Linked DNA regions of Homo sapiens: region 1 is linked to region 2. Evidence: fine-mapped expression QTL. Tissue or cell type: NK cells. Region 2 holds a variant in brackets; the other region holds the start of a gene. All regions are shown on one strand. Distances are from middle to middle.

The links. PIP is the estimated chance that this variant, and not a neighbour inherited with it, causes the effect.
Region 1: POLA2 starts here. The variant in region 2 is fine-mapped to the expression of POLA2 in NK cells (Gilchrist 2021, PIP 0.95).

Annotation. Positions count from the first base shown.
Region 1 is chr11:65,260,811-65,263,491 of GRCh38, reverse strand. It overlaps POLA2 (DNA polymerase alpha 2, accessory subunit), which reads right to left and starts at 1,530. Exons shown (of 18, transcript NM_002689.4): 1 at 1,121-1,530. The coding sequence starts at 1,199. RefSeq lists enhancers at 619-1,504, 1,261-1,510, 1,505-2,392.
Region 2 is chr11:65,172,516-65,175,196 of GRCh38, reverse strand. It overlaps SPDYC (speedy/RINGO cell cycle regulator family member C), which reads right to left. Exons shown (of 7, transcript NM_001008778.3): 5 at 2,592-2,681; 6 at 2,183-2,513; 7 at 1,823-2,014. The coding sequence ends at 1,980. It also overlaps the pseudogene PGAM1P8. Among named protein-coding and RNA genes, the nearest start is that of SPDYC, 3.6 kb to the right of the region's middle. The variant AG/G (reference allele first, on the strand shown) is at 1,080.

The DNA.
Region 1 (2,681 bases), 88 kb before region 2:
AGCACTTTGGAAGGCCAAGGTGGGTGGATCACTTGAGGTCAGGAGTTCGAGAGCAGTCTGGCCTACATGGTGAAACCCCTTCTCTACTAAAAGTACAAAAAAAAATTAGTCGGGCCTGGTGGCGGGCGCCTGTAATCCCAGCTACTTGGGAGGCTGAGGCAGGAGAATCGCTTGAACCTGGGAGGCGGAGGCTGAAGTGAGCCGAGATTGCACCACTGCACTCCAGCCTGGGTGATAAAACAAGACTGTCAAAAAAAAAAAAAAAAAAAAAGAGAGAGAGAGAAGGCACTGGGCATGAAGACTTGAAGTATTCTGGTTTCTGAAAGGAATTTCTCACCATAAATTAACGTTTCGTTATCTTTTTGTATATAAGAAGTTCAAAGTGTTGAGTGGTTAAGGCAGGTGCACATTCATACCGATTCTAGAACTTCCACATCTCCCAGGCTTTGCTTCAAATGACTCCTTACACTGCTCTACAGCTTGACCAACACGATGGACCCGTATGATGCAGCACGGGACTCCAAGGCAGGACACCTGGCTTCACAGACAGCTCAGGCAATTAGCTTTCCTTGTCTGTTTCTCCATCTGTAAAGCTCCCTAAAGCTCCTTCCACAGCTCAAATTCAATTTTAGGAACCTACCTCAAGGGATTCATATTTGCACAGACCACCAACAGCTATGATAAAATAACTGATGGATCAGCAGAGGTTTAAGGTGTAGGCTGGAAAGGGAGGAGCCAAGAATAAAAAGCTACATTTCAAAACCCCCACATCTGTTGCTTTGTTACCGGGGCTTCAACAATTTCCAAACTCAGGTGCCACCAGTGCCTAGTCTCTATCTAGCACATCCCAATTCCGCCTTTCGGGAACTTCGAGTTGGTTTAAAATCGTGCTGCATATTCCTATTTTTGATTTGGCATCCAAGCGGTACCCGGTGGGCATTTCAAAGTCCCCACATCCTAAATCTCAAAACTCAAGTTTGATTCTTCATCTCACAGCCACCGAGAACTCTGCTCCAGGGGAAGTGGAAATTGGAAGCGCTCCACTTTCGGTTCTAGGCGCCGAGGAACTCGGGCGAGAGCGTGGAGCACGGCTGCAGGGCGGGAGGGGTGCGGGACTCACATTTCTCAATTAGAGCCTCCTCGCAGTCTAGGCCGAAGATCTGCAGCTCCTCCGCCAGCTGCTGGGCGGATGCGGACATGGTCGCCCAAGCCAGGGGCCGGGGAGCCGGCCCACCCAGCTCCGACCTGCGCCCAAGAAGCCCACGGGGGTGGCGAGCGATGAGCTCCTCGCCCTCTTATCCTTCCCCCCTCCGCGGACCGTGACAGGAGGTGACTGGCCCAAGCAAGACCTCAGACCGTCAGAAGGCCCCGGCCGTCGGTCACAGAGAAATACTTTTTTTAAAAAATGAAGGGGTGGCTCCCAAACGCCCTGAATGGAGGGAGCAGAAATCTCGAGAGGACGCTCTCCTGGTGAGAACGTCCTGCTTCCCAAAAGCTACCGCTGAGCTTCTCAGTGACGGTGGCAGAACTGAGTGGCCGGAAAAACCCGCCAAATGGTTTGTGCAGTGCACGCATGCGCGAAACCGGGAGCCAACCCCAAACCTTCCCCTTGCTTTCCCCGGCTCATTCCGGAACCCCACGCGCGCACGCGCGGCCCAGGGCGCGTGCGCATCAGCGGGCGTGTGGGCGTCTCTACGCACGCGCCTGGCGGCCCGCCAGTCAGCAGCTGCGCAGTTCTCTCTCACGGCGCGAGAATGCCGGTTGTGACTCGCAACGCCCGGGAGTTGCCTACAAGGAAACTGAGTCTGTGTGCGGATGCCTGTTTTCTGGGCATCGGCTGCTCGATAAAACTCAGTGGCGCATGTTTGTCACCCTTTTGCCCTGTTCCGTGGTGCGCAGGCGTTGTCGTGCGCGTGCCTTCGACTATCTAAAACTTACTGTACCCCCTTCTCCATTCCCCTTGTCATCTCTGCCTGTTGTGCCCTTGGTTCATCCTAAAAGAATGGCTTCAGTAGGGAATCTGGTTGCCATGGTTATTATCGTGCTTATCACCGTGGTGCCAGCCACAGTGATGGGTATGTTTTCTGAATCTGGGGCATTTGGGGGGATATGAGGTGGGAAGGTGACGGATAATTTAGTTTTGGACACGTTAAGTTTGAGTGCCTCTGGGATTTCCAGGTAGAGATTCCCAGTGGGTGACTGGAGGCTTGGGAGTGAAGGTAGGTCACTCAAGGATAGAGTTTAGGGGTAAGATGAGAAGAGGGTTCTCCCCTTGAAATACACCGTAATTCTTTGAGCCAAAAATCTCAACCGTAGGCGTCATACAATGCTGGTGGGATGGTATAGAGCGTTTCGAGAAAACAATTTAGCAATATGTATCAGGAACCTTTAAAATGTCCATCCCAGGCCAGGTGCGGTCACTCACGCCTGTAATCCCAGCATTTGGGAGGCCGAGGCAGGCGGATCACTTTGTAGCAGGACGAGCCACAGACAAAACTCCTCAGACACCCGAGTTAAAGAAGGAAGGGGTTTATTCGGCTGGGGTCATCGGCAAGACTCCTGTCTCACCAGCCGAGCTCCCCGAATGAGCAATTCCTGTCCCTTTTAAGGGCTCACAACTCTAAGGGGGTGCGCCTGAGAGGGTCGTGATCAATTGAACAAGCAGGGGGTACGTGACTGGG
Region 2 (2,681 bases):
GAAGAGGCTATCATGGAGCTGAACCTGCCGACTGGTATTCCCATTGTCTATGAATGGGACAAGAACTTGAAGCCTATCAAGCCCATGCAGTTTCTGGGGGATGAAGAGATGGTACGCAAAGCCATGGAAGCTGTGGCTGCCCAGGGCAAGGCCAAGAAGTGAAGGCCAGCAGGGAGGATACTGTTCCCAGGAGCACCCTCCCTGCCTGTCTTGTCCCTCTGCCCCTCCCACCTGCACATGTCACACTGACCCCATCTGTAGACATCTTGAGTTGTAGCTGCAGATGGGGACCAGTGACTCCCATTTTCATTTTAGCCATTTTGTCTCCTGCACCCACTCCCTTCATACAATCTAGTCAGAATAGCACTTCTAGAGCACAGGTTCTCAGTCCAAGCTGTGGAAAAGCTCCCCTTATCCAACAGAGTTTAAAAGTAGTGACTTGGGTTTTTGCGAGTTGCTTTGTTTACTAAGGACTTGTGGGGAGGAACCATGCTAAGCCATGACCAATGAGGAGAAGCAACAGAGCCTGTCTGTCCCCAGGAGCCAGTCCTCTGCTCGTCTGCAGTCAGGCCACTGCCTGAGGGCTCTAGTCATTCCAGTGGAAGATGAATGTAACCTGCATGGTGATGTGACAACTGTTTCCTCCCTGACGCCAGAGGAGCTGGCTCTAGAAGGTTGGGATCAATCCTGAATTTAGTTATGTGTTACATTTAATTTAAGAAGTATAGTATATATAAATAATACAAAACAATAACCCTTCTGGGGTTTCTCGTGGCGGTTGAAATAGTCCCACATGTAGTCATCAGAAAATAAGCCATTCCTCATACCAATATAGGATCAGCTCCTTGACCTCTGAGGGGCAGGAGTGCTTCCTGGTGTGGGTATTACAATCCCTTCCTGCCTTGTTTCGTGACAGTGAAATGCCTCTTGGTCCTGTCCAAGTATGTCTTTCACTGATTTCTGAATCATGTTCTACTTGCTTGGCCCTGCCACATGGGTCCAGTGTTCATCTGAGCATAACTGTACTAAATCTTTTTCCAGATCAGTATAATAAAGGAGTGATGTGAAAAAAAAAAAAA[AG/G]AAAGAAAAAAAGAAATTAACCCTTTTGAGTCCTCATGTCTCTTGGGGGAGGGGGGTTGTTTATTATAATTACAATATTATATTTGACTGTAGCTCAAGGAAGGGATCAAGTCTTATTCCTAAGTAAACCTGGCCCTGAAGGCATTTCTAGACTAAATAAAGAGCTGTCTTCCATTCAAGTTTTGTTTCCCAATATGTTCCTGGCCTTTTTTTTTTTTTTTTTTGAGACAGAGTCTCACTCTGTCGTCCAGGCTGGAGTGCAGTGGCATGATCTCAACTCGCTGTAACCTCCGCCTCCACAGTTCAAGCAATTCTCCCACCTTGGCGTCCCGAGTAGCTGGGATTATAGGCACCTGCCACCATGCCTGGCTAGTTTCTGTATTTTTAGTAGCAAAGGGGTTTCACCATGTTGGCCAGGCTGTTTTTGAACTCCTGACCTCAAGTGATCCACCCGGCTCAGCCTCCCAAAGTGCTGGGATTACAGGTGTGAGCCACCACGTTCGGCTCCCTGGCCCTCTTCTAAGGGCTGCAGATACCTCATCTCATTTAATCCCATCTAGACTGTGTAGATCTCATCATCCATAGGCATGGATAGCACAGAGATGAAACTGAGGCTCAGAATAACTGGCCACCAATGGGAAGGGGCCAAGCTGTTACAGAGCCTGTGCTCACATGTTGTAACCCTGGTAGATACCCCCTCCCCACCCCAACCTTGGGTCAAGGAACCAGGCCAGGACCTAAGCACAGTTGGTGTCCTGTGGACATGAATTTATTAGAGGGGACTGGCACCAGAGTGGGCACAAGCTGCAGGCTGGGAGGAAGGGGCAGGGGTGGGAGCACAGCCAATGGTGTGTCAGTCAGTGGGCCAGCAGGCGTGCTGTTCTTCACCCTGCAGAGCTTCAGTGCCCAGGGCGTGCCGGAGGCTTTGGGAAGACTGGGGAGAGGAAAGAGTGAGGCTCAGAGAAGAAACCTGCCAAGCTCACACGGGAGGGGCAGCACGTCGACCCCAGGCCCATGGCCCTCTCTCTCATATTGTTGGTCCTCACTCCTGCCTCCCAAGCTCCCACACCAGCCCCCAGCTCCTGTCCCATCCTGCACTCACTGCGGAGGGAGTAGGTGCCTGGTTCCAGTTGCATCTGGGGAGGCAAGACGATGAGAAAGTCCCCACCCCAGGCGTTTTTGACCCTTGAGAGATAATTTTGGGAGGGAGGGCGATGACATTCAGAGGTCAGAGAAGGGCACTTGGATGACACAGGCTTAAGCAAGTGGCTGCTGCAGTGCTGGGGCAAACCACAGGGGGAACAGTGGGGCGGCGAGAGGCCAGGGCCCCGGGGAAGGCGAACAGGGACCTGTGGACAGACCCTCTGAACCCCACCATGGTGGGGGCGCCGGTCCCGAGTCCAAGCCCAGTGGAATGGCTCCTTTGCCATGACCTGGGAGGAGCAGAGTGGACAGTAAATGGGGTGGGAACCCCAGCCTTCCCCACACCCCAGGTTGCCTCCCAGCCTCACCTCCTCACAGCACTGGCGGCTCACAACAGCCCGGAAACCCATCCGTGCCCAAAGCTTATCCCTCTGGTGCAGGAATTTCCCCACTCGTAA